Linked DNA regions of Homo sapiens: region 1 is linked to region 2. The links come from fine-mapping of genetic effects on gene expression. Tissue or cell type: whole blood. Region 2 holds a variant in brackets; the other region holds the start of a gene. All regions are shown on one strand. Distances are between the middles of the regions.

Region 1 (8,106 bases), 61 kb after region 2:
CTTCTCCCAGGCCGCTGAGGACCGCACAGGGGAGCGGGCGGCGGCATCGCGAGGACTGACCACTGGGTGGCACTGTTGCTCCATGGAGAGCTGCCAACGGCGTCCCCGGGGACCCGGCCACGTTGAGCACAAAAGGTGGGATTTCTAAGGTGTGCTCGGTGATGAGTTTCTTAATGAATTTACCTCTTCTATGGAATCTCCCTCTGCAGCGTCTCCTGCCGCCCGGGGCCGGTTTCTGACTGTGGACTCTGGGTTGAGCCCATGGGGTCAGTGCGCGTGGAGCTTGCACTGCCCAGACCCACAGCCCCAGGAGCAGCCACCTCCCGTGTCACCCGGGCGGCGTCCTGATGACATCACTTAGAAGATTAAAAATAAATTGAAGCACATGTCACCTTAAAGGGGGCACAAAAAGGACATCTGCATGATTTGATGCATCCATGAGAAAGGGCTGCTGGCTTTTGATTTAAACTGTTGGGAAAGAGGATTTTAAAGCTTGTAAGCTGCTAGTATTTCCAAAAGAATGACTATTTTTTATTTTTTATTATTTAAATTAAAAAAGCACTTCCCTGTTCCCCTGTCCCTACACTCTAATTCTTCTTGGCTTTGATTTGGGCGATATTGTAGGCAGCTTTCTGCTCCACGGTGAAGGTCTGCCCGAGGAAGGACGGGGACAATCTTGGGGAAGATGGGGGAGGCGGGGACCGATTTTCCAGCCCAGAGCTGGGGTCTGCAGAACCAGGAGCCCGGGCCAGGCTGGCCTATCAGCCATGACCATCTGTGCACCTTAGCCACCTACTCACAGCACAGCCTCCATCTGCAGATCCACCTAGGACTCATCCATTCCTGACTGGTCTTTTGTTTCAAAACCCGGCAGCCCCGGCCCCTCCCAAGCCTGAAGTCACCACACACGCCCATCCTCCCATCAGTCACTTCCTGGCTAATGGGGACTGAGGCCCAATCATTCTCGTTTTTCATGCCTTGTCAGAGGCCTGAACACAGAGACAGAGGAAGGGAGAGAGAGAGAGAGGGCAGCTCTGGAGGAGGCGCAGAGTATGGGCAGATGTCCTCATGAAAAATTTACAAGGAATAATCAGAGGCCCCTTCTCTCCCCTCTGGCCAAAGTCCCCCTAGGCTTGTTGCCCGGGCCGCTGTGAGAATATTGGAAAAGTCCCCCTCGTTTTGAAGGCAATCTGGTTCTGGGGGGTTAATGCCCAGCGTTGATGCACTTGGCTGTCCTCTTGAGACCGGGTTGCAAATGCAGTTCAGGCAAAATTGATGAAGTATCAGTTAATCTGAGGCTGACAGTTTAGAGAGGTCACAGCTGCGAGGGGCTGCCAGGGTCTCCCAGAGACAGGACTAAGAAGAGTTAAAGCCAGGGAGGGCCCGGTGAAAGGAAGCATTCATCTTCTTCGCCTGGGCATTTCTCAAACATTGCGCCTGCCAGGATCCCTGAGCCTCTCTCCAGGTGAGCAGTGTGAGTGGGGAGGCTTTCACTCTGGTGCGCACAGTCATGCCTCCTCCCAGACAAATCCAAACCCACATGCCTGGTGTTCCTGGCTCCTTGGGAAGGAAGAAGGAGGGAGTTGCTGCTCCTAATTGAAACAGGCAGTTAGGTCTCCTATGCAAATCCCCTTGCTGTAATTGGCACTGTGAGTGCCGCCTGCTCATTCCTCCGTTTCCCGCTAGGGGAAGGTCATCTTGGTAAGAGATGTGTCCACACGGGGTGGGCTCTGAGCTGCTCAGAAGGAACTCTGCAGAAGTGGGGAACCATTGACTCACACCCTTCCCATAGGTGGTTTCCTTCAGGCTCCAGCAATTTTTTACAACAAGGTGGTACAATGAGAAAAATACCGCTCTGCTGTTAGACCACATATTTCAATCCTTGTACTTCCTAAGAGTTCTGATAGTCCAAGAGGCTGGGGGCTATGGCCATGTTTCTCACTCGAATTGCCCTGGTACTGAAATGCATCACGTGTAGGGGAGACTCAGTGTTTGTGAGCACACACTGAGTGACTATAACTGAGTGATTTCAGAGAGACAGAAGAAGGCATGCAAATGCACTTGTCTTGAGTTGTTTTCTAGGGGACATGCTCAGGGCTCTGGGACCTACCTAGTCATCTCGCTGCCTGGAGAGGCGGCTGCTTGGCCATGTTATCTCCATGCCTTCTAAATTAGGATGCGGCTTTAGGTTCACATTCATAAATAATTGGGTTTTATGGGATAGGAAGCAGCAAGGGCTTTGCGTTGATCGGCCCTGGGTTGGGTCCTGGCCTCCCTAAGCTTTGAGAATGATTTTATCATCACCATTGCCTGCTTATGGGAAAATAGGGCGGCAGTTAGTCGTGGAGTCCCTGTGACAAAGTGGCAGGTGGATGGCTGCGCCGGGGGTCTAACCTGCGCTGTCACACTCCGTTCCCTCTTCCTTTCAGTGACAAGAATGCAAGTAATAGTGCTGAGAATCGTGTGCTCAGCTGTGCTGGGCTGAGCATTTTATGTGCATGAACTCATCCCTCCCTGCGAACTTGTGAGAAAGGTATTATTATTATCATTATTAATATTATTATTACCGTATTCTCTCTGCTTACAGACAGAGAGATTGAGGTGTGGCAAGTAGGTAGTAAAATCCACCTTCTTCTTCTGTGAGGTTCCTCCTGTTCCCAGGGGTGTGGGGACGGTGAGTGGTGGATGGGTGAGGTCTTACAATGCAAAACTGCTGATTTCTACATCCGAAAAAAATCATGAATATGAACGATTATAGCCAGATTGAAACTATCATTATTTTCGGTAAGAAAAAGTGCGTCTATTCACAGAAAGTCAGGTACTTTTCCCCAAAATCACATGGGAAAAGTGTGCAAATACAGAACAGCCCTTCCAGGAAGGAACTATTTTCTCCGAAACAGGAAATTGTTGTACATTCAGACACACCATAAATACACGTCTAGTTTGTACATGGCAATTCCAGGGTCTGAGGCTCTTCCTTCCTGGCCCTAGAATGGCGTCTCTTGCGCTGTGGGCTTCCTGTTGAGGCAGGGGCTGAGGAGGTGGGAAGCAGAGGCTGAGATTTTCCTTCACCACGGTCACAGAAGATGCGCTGTTCCAGGGGCCTGGGTGGGAGCAGCCCAGGAGCCTGCGTCTCCCCTCCTCGGCCCTGGGAGGCGGCTGGACTGTGCCACACGGGACGGGTGCTGAGGGACCGCTGGGTGCCCACCTCCCTGACCCCTCCTGCAGGGGTGCCTGCCAAGCAGCCTGGGCACTGCCGTCTGGAAGATGCGCCGTGCCGGTTCTACACGGTGTTCCCTTGCTCCAGGCAGAAAGGTCAGTCCAGGCTTCTCACTCCATCGTGGCCAGAAGCCAAGTCTCATGGCATGAGATTCAACCAAAGAGAATCTCCTGGAGCTTCTTTACCTCATCAGACTTATATCCCACACAACACACACACACCCCCATCCATAAATGTGTGTATGTATATACCACACACGTACACACACATATGCCACACACATGCACACCACACACACAGAATGAATACACATACACCACACACATAAACACACACGTGTGTATGTATATATCACACACTTAAACACACGCATGCCACACACGTGCACACCACACACACAAAATGAATACACAGACACCACACACACAAACACAGAGATATCACACACATACATACACACACCATGCAACACACAAACATGCATACACATATTCCACACACAGAAACACACAGACACCACACATATACACACAGACATGCATACACACAACACACATATAAACACACAAATGCCACACACCAACACATGCCACACACAAACATGCACACACATACACCACACACATAAACACACAATACCACACACATACACAGACACTAACACACACTACACAAACATGCACACACATACACTACACACAAAAATACACAGATACCACACACATACACAGACACTAACACACACTACACAAACATGCATACACATACACCACAGATGTAAACACACAGATACATACATACACACACACCAACACCCACACTACACACATAAACACATGCATCATATGTAACACACATTACACAGACTTATATCCCACACAACACACACATACCCACATTCAACACACACACTTGCTCACACCCCTTCCCACACAATCCAACACACACACCCCCACATTCAACACACACGCATGCTCACACCCCTTCCCACACAACCCAACACACACACACCCACATTCAACACACACACTTGCTCACACCCTTTCCCACACAACCCAACACACACACACCCACATTCAACACACACATATGCTCACACCCCTTCCCACACAACCCAACACACACACACACACGCCTCCACGTACATCTTTTTATGGTAGTTATTTTTTTGTAAGTAAAATATTTGTATAATATCAGCTTATTGTTTGCCATAGCATAACTTATTTCAAACTTGTCCAACCTGCAGCCCATGTGGCCTGGGGTGGCTTTGAATGCAGCCCAACCCAAATTTGTAAACCTTTTAAAAACATTGAGATTTCTCAGCTATGATTTTCTTTAGCTCATCAGCTATTGCTAGTGTGGTGTATTTTATGTGTGGCCCAAGACAATAATTCTTCTTCCAATGTGGCCCAGGGAAGCCAAAAGACTGGACGCCCCTGAATTATGTGGTTCTCATCCTAGGTGATTTTGCCCCTGGAGGTAGGTGGAAAGTCTGGAAACATTTTTGGCGATCGCAGCTGGAGGGGGCTCTTGGCATCTACGGGTGGAGCCAGGGTTTAGGGTGTGTGCAGCACCAAAGGCTCGATGCCTCCCCAACACCAAAGAACCCTCTGAGCCCGTAGTGCGGAGACCAGAAACCCGATTTCAATTTCCTAGTAAAAGAAAACGGAAATGAAAACGACAAAACGGTCCTGTGTCTTCTCTCTTCTCGGTGCAGCTATCTGGATGGGGCGACTTGGAATTCCGAGTCTAGGCCTTGCACTGATTTTCCCCCCTGACATCTGGGAAGCCATTTCACTGTTTAAAACCAAAGATGCTGAGTGGCAGCTGCCACCAATTGGAAGGGGACAGGAGAAAGGGATTTTTATGAAGAGCCTGTGTGCCTTGGATGCTGCAGGTGGAGACCTCTGCAGTTTGTCCAGCAACTGCCTGCCAGAGATGGGCCAGAGAAGGGCCAAGCAGCTCCCTCCTATCGGAGGTCCACAGGTGGACCCCCACCCCCAGTCTCCATCCCCGGTCCACGCCCCAGTCCCTGCTGGTGGGGAAGCTGGGGAGCAGGCCATGCGTGTAATTCCAGAAGCTATTGCATGGCAAAGGCTACGTGCCCTCAAAGCCCGGGCACCTCCCTGGCCCCACAACTGCTTCACACAATACTTGTGTTTCTGTACGTTCTATGTGAAGTTTCAGGAAAGAATCTGTAAGTGATGTCTAAAGCAAGTTTCTGAATATTTATGCTGTAATACACGGCCATGAGCATGCTGGCTACTCATTTCTAATCCTATGACAAATGCACAAGGGCAGGTACTGGGAGAGTGAACTGTTTCCCTGGCCAGGGACCCAAGCACCACTTGGGGCATCAGAAGGAAGCCCTCTGGTTTTGGCCAAGGAGAAGCTTGCACTGTTTTACTAGAAACGTCCTATGTGAATCCATCCTCTGTGATTCCACGACTTTGTATGACTTGCTTGGTGCTTCCAAGGACGTAGGAACTGAAGGGTGGGGCATGTTCTGTGCACTTTTGTCATGGGAAAGCTGGCTTTTGGGAAACCCCCTGGCCCCACAGTTGCTCCCAGAAGCCATACTGGGGGAAGGGCCTGGGGAATGTTCCCAGAGGGTCATGTTGCCTTGATTCATCCTGATGGGGATTTGGGGAAGGGCGAGTGACACCATCATGACTGGGTGCGCCCAGACTGCCTGTCTGCCCTGCTATTTAGAAGCAATATTAGCGAGGGCTATAGTTTTTTTTTCTTTCTTTTTTTTTTTTTTTTTTAATCAGTAAAAATGAGTTCCTAACTTTAGTTCAGAGTCTTAGTTAGGTTTCAGTTTCAGAGAACTCTTTCAAAAAAGGGAATATGTTAGAAGGCCCACAGTGGCCCTTAATAATTTTGAATTAGCGTTAGAATGAGACACCTGATGGCAGTGATTCCGAGTGGAGACCCTGGGCCAGCGTCCCCAGCACCGCCTGGGAACCTGTGAGAAGCACAGCTTCTGGGCCACACCGTAGAGCTGTCTTTACATTTTATACCTCTTCAAACACCGCATAGTCTCACTCATAAGTGGCAGTTGAACAATGAGAACACGTGGACACAGGGAGGGAATATCACACACTGGGGCCTGTTGGCGGGTGGCGGGGCTAGGGGAGGAATAGCATTAGGAGAAATAACTAATGTAGATGAGGGGTTGACGGGTGCAGCAAACCACCATGACACGTGTATACTCATGTAACAAACCTGCATGTTCTGCACATGTATCCCAGAACTTAAAGTATAATATAAAAAGAAAAAAAAATTTATAACTCTTCCAGCAGTTTCTATCCATAGCACATAGAGCTTGTGTTTTGGTTTGGTTTTGCTTAATTTTCACAAGCCTGCAGTTGAAAGTGAAATGAGATGAGGTTAGCGAAAAGAGGCAGGAACTCTGGAACCTTAAGGTCCTACAACTTCAAATGTGTCACTGGCAATAACCTGGCTGCCATTTTGGTTTTGTCTAAATGAAAGCAATGATCAGTTAGTGTTATATAAGATATAAACATTTAAAATGTTCAAAATTCCCTAATCTTTCAGAAATGTAAATTGAGACAAAGAAAGGTCAGGGTTTCTCCTGGGACCACCCGTTGTCCCCAGATCAGACAAAAATCCAGTCTTCTGAATTCCCGTTGCAAAGTTGTGTTTGCATCACTGCATCTTGATCCTCTTCCTACTGCAATGTTTTAATTATCTAAAGAATAAGGGCATTAGATATGAGGGATAACATCATGAAGGATTTCCAAACAATTCGGTAGCCAGCGAAGATCACTGTTTGCTTAATTTCAATTGAGAGAGACAGGTCCGTCTTCTACAATGAATGCATTTTACACATTTTTAAATGTTTGCCTCATTTATGACATGTTTACCTTAAAAAAAATTTAATAAATGATTTTGGGCCAGGCGTGGTGGCTCATGCCTGTAATCCCAGCACTTTGGGAGGCCGAGGTGGGTGGATCACGAGGTCAGCAGATTGAGACCATCCTGGCTAACACGGTGAAACCCCATCTCTACTAAACATACAAAAAATTAGCTGAGCATGGTGGCACGTGCCTGTAATCCCAACTACTCGGGAGGCTGAGGCAGGAGAATCGCTAAAACCTGGGAGGTGGAGGTTGCAGTGAGCCGAGATCGCACCACTGCACTCCAGCCTGGGTGACAGAGAGAGACTCCATCTCAAAAAAAAAAATTTCATAAAGATGGGTTTTCTCTTATCCTGCCCAATCTTAACAGATGTTTGAAACCGACTCCCATAAAAAGTAGGCTTTGTAATCGAGTCTCAGAAAGTCTGAGGCTGCCTAGGTCTGCCGGATGCTCCCATTCGGTGACCTTGATACTAAACAGGAAAGGAAAGGGCAGCTCCATTTGCCCGAAGGCTTTTAACAGAGCTGGTGGGGGCTGCTCCACTGCCCCAGACCCTGGAAGAGAGTTGGGATCCAAGCCTGGGCGGAGGCCTTTCTGAAGTGAGAGGCTTTGTGGTAGGCACAGCCAGACACCATTGGTGGAACTGAATTTGTCATTTTACCTGGTCTAGAAATGAACCCTAAACAAAAATCTTCAAGTATCAGTAAGCTGAGGAGGAAGCTACTGGGGCTGTTGAAGTGCTTGGTGTCGAAACATCTACGTTGGAGGGTGACGCCGCCAGGTGTGCCTGTTGGCTTGGTTGATTCTTCTTGCCGATATGCAGCCTGGACTTCTCAATGCAGAAAGCAGAGGCTCCTGACTCCAGAGATATCTTTCAGGCAGTGATTTCCTTTAAAAGAAAATAAATAGTTTCAAAATATAGTGAATAAACTTGCATGTGAATAAACTTGGAAAGCACGTTAGCCTATATTACCAAGTTGTATTTGAGCACACTCATTTCA
Region 2 (8,106 bases):
CAAATGGAAATTATAGAACTGAAAATTACAACAGCTGAAATTAAAAGCCATCACTGGATGGCTTTAGCGGTGTAATAGAATTGACAAAGGGAAGAGTCCATATACTTGAGGATAGATTAGTGGAAATTATCTGCTCCAAAATATAAACAAAGCATTGGAGATTTGTGATACAATATGAAAAGATCTAACATACGTCTAATTGGAATTCTAGAATGAAAAGAGAATGAGAATGAAATGTTTTTTAAATGTGAAGGAACCATATTTCCCCTTTTATGGGTAAATGTTTTCACAAAATGTTTCTCCAATATAGTGAAACATAAATTTACAGATTCAAAACATCTCAGTGAACCCCCATCATTGTAAATCCAAAGAAAACAATGCCTAGGCATATCATAGTTGTATTGGACAGTGACCTTCTAAAACTGATGTCCTTTCTGGAACTTCAGAATGTGACATTATTTGGAAATATGGTTGCTGCAGATGTAATCAAGTTAAGATGACATCATATTGGATTAGAGTGAACCTTAATCCATTATGACTAGTGTCTTCATAATAAGAAGGGAAGATGAGACAGAGACATGAGACACAATGTCATGTGATGATAGAGGTAGAGATTGGACTGATGCAGCTGAAAGCCAGGAACACCAAAATATGATCATCACTACCAAAAGATGGAAGAGGTAAGGAAGGATTCTATTCAGAGTCTCAGAGGGAAGACACCTTGATTTTGGACTTCTAGTTTTTGGAACTGTGAAAAAATAAATCTCTGTTGTTTAAAGCGGCCCAGTTTTGAGTATTCTGTCACAGCATAACTAGAAAATTAATGCACTCATCTAAACACTTAAACCAAAGATAAAATCTTGAAAGCAGCTGAAGAAAAAATACATTATAAATATTTATATGAAAACAAAGATGTAAGTTATTGCTGACTTTATATTAGAAACTATGGGCAAGAGAGTGCAACAAGATCTTTAAAGTACTGAAAGAAAAATATACCAACATAGAATTCTATGTACAGTAAAAATGTGCGAAATAAGGTGAAGTACTGACATTTAAAAAAAAAACAAAGGTAAGAGAATTAATCACAAATAATGCTACATTAAAATGTATGATGTGGCACATTATCAACATGACAATTAACGTGATTCATCAAAATGTTTTACATTTTGAGCCCCACTCTGAATTACTCAAACAGTTGAATGTTTGTTATGGACTGAATGTTTGTGTCCCCCCACCTCCAAATTCTTATGTTGAATTCCTATCCCCTAGAGTGGCTGCATTTGGAGATGGACCTCTAAGGAAGTAATTAAGATTACTGAGGTCACAAGGGTTGGGTCCTGATCCAATAGGATTTGTGTCTTTATAAGAACAGACACAAAAGTGTTCTCTCCCTTCCATGCGTGCACTCTCTCTCTTCCCCTCCCTGCCCTTGCCTCCTTGCGTCTGCATAAAGAAGAGGTTATATGGGCACATTGTGAGATGGTGGCCTCCCATGAGCCAAGAAAAGAGGGCTTAAAATGAATCCTACCTGGCTGGCACCTTGATCTTGGACTTCCTAGCATCCAGAAATGTGAGAAATAAATTCTTTCTCTTTCTCTTTCTCTTTCTCTTTCTCTTTCTCTTTCCCTTTCTCTCTTTCTCTTTCTCTTTCTCTTTCTCTTTCTCTTTCTCTTTCTCTTTCCCTTTCCCTTTCCCTTCCCTTTCTGTTTTCCTTTCCCCTTTCCTTTCCTTCTTTTCTCTTTCTTCCTTTCTCTTTCTTTCTGTTTCTTTCTCCCTCCCTCTCTTTCTTTCTCTCTCTTTTTCTTTTCTTTCTTCTTATTGGGATGGTTCTCTATTTCCCAGGCTGAAATAGCTCACTGCAGCCTCAAACTCCTGGGCTTAAGCAATCCTCCCACCTCAGGATCCTGAGTTGCTGGGATGGCAGTTGTGAGCCACCATGCCCACCTCGTGAGAAATTTCTGTTTAAGCCACTAGCCTGTGGTATTTTCTTATGGCAGCCTGAGCAGATTACTGCAATGTCCTTTAAGTTAAAATAAATTTTCCCTAAGCACAGCAAGCACTTCTATTAGTAAGTAGGAGGCTCAGTCAGTCTTCACGTATGCAAAAGTATTAATAGAATAGGCCTGGGAATGAAAGTGCCTGGTGTTCTATCTCAAACAGTCTACCCACTCAGGGAAACAGCTGTGAAGCAGACATAGCACTTCTCCATTGTCTTCCTTCCTCAGTGGTACATGCCTGGTTTTGTTTATTTTTTTCTTAGACTAGACTAATCTCCTTTTGTGCTGATCCTTCTCTCTGTAAAATCTCTTTTCTAGGAGCAATTATATAGTATCTTAAAAGTGTTTGGACACGTGGATCATTTTGGAACATACACCAAGAAAATAATCAGTGGTACACATAAAAAGGTTTTATTATAACTATTATCTTTAAATAATCAGAATATATTTATGTATGTGTATAATGTGTTTATTTGTAATACACACTGGTTAAATACATTGAGATAAATCCTTTTAATATAATGCTAAGCAGAATGCTGAGCACCTAAGAAGATGTAAATTATCAAAAATACATTTTTTCTCAGTGATAATCTGTGACTTTTTTAACATCTTAAAAATTTTCCCTATTTTCTACAACAGCATGGAAAATTAGAAATGCCATCTTTAGCAGCTTTATCGAGGTATGAATAGCTTGCAGAAAAGTACACACATTTAAAATGTACAAGTTAATTAATTTTGACATATGTATAATCTCATGAAACCATCACCACAGTAGAGACAGCAAACTGTAATATTACCTCTAGAAATGTCCTTGGGTCTTTTTGCAATCCCACCCTTCTGCCCTCCTCCCTGACCTTTTTATTCCCAGGAAAACACAGGTCTAACTGTACAGAAAATTAGTTTTTATTTTCTAGAATTTTAGATAAATGGAATCATACAGTTTGTGCCATTTTTATTAGACTTTCTTCAATTAGCAGCAAAATTATTTTGAGATTCATACATGTTGGTTTGTGGATCAATGATTTATTCCATCCTCTATATTTCTTTTT[T/C]AATTTTGTTGAGTAGTATTTCATCTTCTGGACATGTTGTCCTTAACCTGGGTTGGTCCCAGATTTTACCTGTTGCAAATAAACTGCTCTGGGCACCGTGTGCAACACTTTCTGTTGTTTTTCATGTTTTTGTGTAAATCTCTATTTCCGTCTAATATTTTTTCTTCTTCTGAATGACTTTCTTTAACATTTCTTACGGTGAGTCTGCTGGTGGGTGATGAATTCTTTCAGCTCTTGTATATGTAGAAAAGTCTATATTTTACCTTAGTTTTTGAGAGAGATTTTCCCTTCGTGTAGCATTCTAGGTTGCAGAGTTTGTTTGTTTATTTCTTTTAGTACTTTAACAATGTTGCTCCAATGTCTTCCCACTTGCATTATCTCTGATGGGAAATCTGCTGTCCCCTTCTGGTTGTTACTCTCTATGTAACCTGTATCATTTCTGGGCTGCTTTTTTTCTTTTCCTCTGGTTTGAATCATTTGATTATGATGTGCTTTGGTGTACAGTTATTCATGTGCTTGAATCTGTGTTTGATCTGTGGATTTATAGTTTACATTAAATTTTGAAAAAGAAAAAAGCTCAAATAGTTTTTCTGTCACTTCTCTCTTTTCTCCCTGGGGATTCTAATTACATATGTATTAGTTGACTGAAGCTGCCCCACAACTCACCGATGGTCTTTTATTTATTTTTTTGCAGTCTTTTTTGCCCTGTGTTTTTTTCTGGGTAGTTTCTATTGCTGTGTGTTCAAGTTCACTAATCTTTTGTAGTGCTCAATTGCAATGGATCAACCTAATGGACTATAAAGTTGTATAGTCTGGCTAGTAAGAACAGACACCAGGCAGTGTCTGACCCTGACCCTGGGTTCTAGTTCCTCTAATCTTTTTGGAATTTTCTTCACCTGGCCTTAGGTAGCATTTCTCACTCTCACGGTTCAATGATCAAGGAAGACTCTCTATAGAACTCAAACATTCTCTCTGTGCATCTCTAGCTCCAACTGCCTTGGTCTCCTGGGACTCCCAGCTCTATCCCTCTACTCAGGGAGACTGTTGGATTCTTCCTGTTTAATCTTTCAGTCTGCAAACTCCCAGAAGTCAGTGTGCTCAGGCACTTGTAGGGCTCACCTCATTTCTCTCTGGTCACAGGGACATTTTCAGTTGTTACTATTGTTTCATAACCTTGTCTGATTATTTGGTTTCTTCATGTTGGGGGATAAAGCTTTCTATTACTCCATCTTGTCAAGACACAAAAGTCCCTAGTGTAGTATTTTAAACAAGCAAAACCACCCTATCTTTCCCTCATATGTGACTTTTTATATCTTTATTTTGTAAGATTTCTTTAACTTTGTGTTTAAATCTTCTACTAAGATTTTCATTTCTGCTATCAAGTTTCTAAATTCCAAAGCCCCTCCTTTCCCCCCTTTTCTTCTTTCCTTTCTGTCTTCCTTTTCTTTTTTCCTCTCTTCCTTCCTCCCTTCTTTACTCTTTCTTTTCTTCCCTCCTCCATTTACTCCTCCTCTGCATTCTCTCCCTGCATTTCTTCTTTTCCTCCTTCCTTTTTTTCATCTTTCTTTTCTCATTATTTAAGGTTCTTTGAAAATATTTTTTTCTTGGATGCAATATCTGTACGTATTTTTCTGCCACTATTAATTATTGCTTCACTTACAGTGATTCCTGCAAACTTTCAATCTTCTCTAAGGTGGGGCTTTGTTTATTTATTTTATTTGCATCTTCCAGGTGACATGGTTTTCTGGTGCCTTGGCAACTGCTCACGATGCATGGGAAGACTAAACACTTTGTGTACAGCATTCTGTCTCATCCAGTGAAGACTTCCTCTGGATTATTGCAGCAGACACCTCTAACCTCCTTAATCTGTGTATGTAACCTAATCACTCTTTTTTTTTTTTTTTTTTTGAGACAGAGTCTCACTCTGTCATCCAGGCTGGAGTGCAGTAGCATGATCTCGGCTCACTGCAACCACCTCTGCCTCCCGGGTTCAAGCCATTCTCCTGCCTCAGCCTCCCGAGTAGCTGAGATTACAGGCATACGCCACCATGCCTGGCTAATTTTTTGTGTATTTTCAGTAGAGATGGGGTTTCACCATGTTGGTCAGGCTGGTCTCAAACTCCCGACCTTGTGATCCACCCACCTCGGCCTCCCAAAGTGCTGGGATTACGGGTGTGAGCCACTGTGCCCAGTCGAATGTTTGATATTTTTAAGAACCTTTTAGGTGTGGTTTTGCATTTTCACTCTTTTCATGCTTTAAAGCACACATCTTGTTACAACTCTTCCATGGAAAATCTCTGCCTTCCAGGGCTAAGCAAGGCTGTCCTTGGTGTGGCTTGCAGACTGAATTCAGCCAGCATGGTGCTATTTGATTTTACTTACAACAAACAAACAACTGTTCAGATTATTAGACAATGGAATGGGAATACCTTTGGAGTCACAATTTCTCCAATTCGCCATGTCTCTCTGTTGCTCTACAACTGTAAGGAGAGAAAAATAATTAGAAGAAGAGTCTCCCTCAATAGAGAGGCAGACATACACACCTGGTGATCATCACTGTGGTCCTGCCCACCCTGGCACAGGTGGGTCAGACAAACCTGGTCTGATTCTGATTTACTTTGCCTGAGGGAGTTAACAAAGGTTTCAGAGAGAGGGAATCAGAAAACCCTCATGTAAAACAGATACCATACATGTTAGATCGAATTACAATGGAGTAAACATTTCTTTCTTATTAATGTTGTTAGTGCTGTGTTTCTTGTCCTATTCAGTGACATGCTTTGACCTAGTAATTTTTATACGTGGACTGATTTTCAGATGCATGTGGGCATAAATTAAATACCAAGCATCTAATGTGGACTTGTGTATTTCTTTTTTTTTTTTAGACTGAATCTTGCTCTGTCGCCAGGCTGGAGTGCAGTGGTGCGATATTGGCTCACTGCAACCTCCGCCTCTCGGGTTCAAGCGATTATCCTGCCTCAGCCTTTTGAGTAGCTGGGACTACAGGCACATGGTACCATGCCAGACTAATTTTTGTATTTTTAGTAGAGATGGGATTATCACTATGTTGGCCAAGATGGTTTTGATCTCTTGACTTCGTGATCCGCCCTCCTCGGCCTCCCAAAGTGCTGGGATTTCAGGCGTTAGCCACCGCACCCAGCCTGGACTTGTCTATTTCATTTGGAGAACTTCAATTGATCTAAATCTACTTTGCAGCTTTTCATTGTTAATTTTGAATTTATTTAAACAAGTAAAATATTTAAGACATTTGTGTGGAAAACCTGTAACAAATTGCATTTGGTTCAATCCCTGATTATGTTTTAGATATGCCAACTCTTTTTCTCTCTTTTTTTAAAAATTTGATAAATACTGAAACCAATTCAATTTAGATCAAATACATTACATTTCCACTAGAGGGAGGAAAAGCGCTAATTTTGAACCTTTATGAGGGAACTGTGCTTTTGCCGAGATAATCACTTCCCTCATTACACACAAACTGTGTCTGGAAAAACAACAGTAGTTCCTTTCATTTTTATTTAAATCTCTTCTCTAATGGGAAAACAAAGGACAAAACAGGGAACACTTCTAGGTCAAAGTAGCAAATCTTTAAAAGTGGCTAATTTCTTGCTTCAAGAATTCTAAATACAGCCCCCAGGGTCAGAAAAATATTCAAAGGAAAACCTTAGTGATCATGGAACGCAATCTCTTTCTTTAATAGTGGTGAAAAATGAGGCCCACAGAGAGGCCTGCCCTGCCTAGGGTCATGTAATTTGTTAGTAGCAGATGCACGCGAGAATAGAAGTTCTGCAGTTCTTTTTCTAGTGCTCTTTATAATGCAGTATGGTCTCAGCATATCTGATGCAGTAAATGATATGTACATACACACACATTTTTTTAGGTACATATATATGGATGCATATGTTTTCTTCCATGTGAGGTAATGATTTGAAATTTGGCTTTAAGAGACATTCTGGGGATTTTATGTGTCCTTGTTTATTTGCTCTTAAAACCTCCCTACCCCCTCGTCATTGTAGAACTCTGGATGCACTGCTTATGTTGGATACAGCTAATGGGTCCTGCAAGGCCCAGGCTCTTGTAATTATTGAGCAATCGCCAAAATACTGTGGTTTAGAAAACACATCATAAACTTTTCTGTGGAGTCTCCAAAATTTTTATTAACATGCATGACATTAATGGTTGTGCTTATTTTGCCATAATTGAGGGTGTGTCCCATTTCTCTCAAATAAGAAGGCATTCAAGGGAGCTATCAAATTTCACTTTTGGCTGAACCTGGTCTGTAAGCTTTTCCAAACCTAATGCATTTATGCTCATCTTTGAGATTGAAAACATTATTTTCTGTGTTTTAATTGAAGAAAAAAAAATCCAAACACTCAAGTTCTCCATTCTGAAGCTGTAATTAAGAAAATATCCATCAATAAATGTGTAATTATTTTAAGCCATAATTTTTTTTCAGTAGGTCCTGTTGTAATAACTAACGATTGAAGAGTTTTCCTCATGCCTCCAAATGTCCTCACTAGTGTCTCTAGACTATTTCTACCTGAAGAGAGCTTGCATTAAAAATAAGGGTTAGGGTTAGGGAATTTGGAGATACATTTATAAGGTGAACTTTGGGTGGAACTGTGGTCATTTTATTAATTTTAAAAATTATTAATTCTTCCTCTTCTATGTGCATACATGCAAAGTAATGAATGAAGGAACTTCTGGCTACAAGCAGATGTAGGTACCACTTCTAACTGAGTTTGTGACCTCTGACAAGTTATTCATCTCTGGACTTTAGTTTTTTATTTGCAAAATAAGAAGGTCAGACATGAGGAGGACCAAGAGCCCATTTCTAGTGGGCCATGACTTTAATTTGCCATGATGAGTGGAAGTCACTTATAGTCTTAAATGCCTTATAATTTTTAACAGGATCATAACACAAGATATGCTGTTTTATGCCATTCTGTTACTATTCTAATAACTTGGGAAAGCATGGTATTGGTATATAATGTGTTCCATAATGCATTGGTTCCCTCAAAACCTTCAAGTAAATCAGTCTTTTG

What was found. PIP is the estimated chance that this variant, and not a neighbour inherited with it, causes the effect.
Region 1: it holds the start of LINC00487, and the variant in region 2 is fine-mapped to the expression of LINC00487 in whole blood (TOPMed, PIP above 0.99).

What each region holds. Positions count from the first base shown.
Region 1 is chr2:6,765,288-6,773,393 of GRCh38, reverse strand. It overlaps LINC00487 (long intergenic non-protein coding RNA 487), which reads left to right and starts at 3,083. Exons shown (of 6, transcript NR_038369.1): 1 at 3,083-3,315. It overlaps LOC105373404 (a long non-coding RNA gene), which reads left to right. Exons shown (of 4, transcript XR_922745.3): 4 at 11-571. RefSeq lists an enhancer at 1-227.
Region 2 is chr2:6,826,778-6,834,883 of GRCh38, reverse strand. NRIR (negative regulator of interferon response) reads left to right here. Exons shown (of 4, transcript NR_126359.1): 2 at 1,454-1,570; 3 at 4,778-4,916; 4 at 5,929-6,330. Among named protein-coding and RNA genes, the nearest start is that of NRIR, 9.6 kb to the left of the region's middle. The variant T/C (reference allele first, on the strand shown) is at 3,047.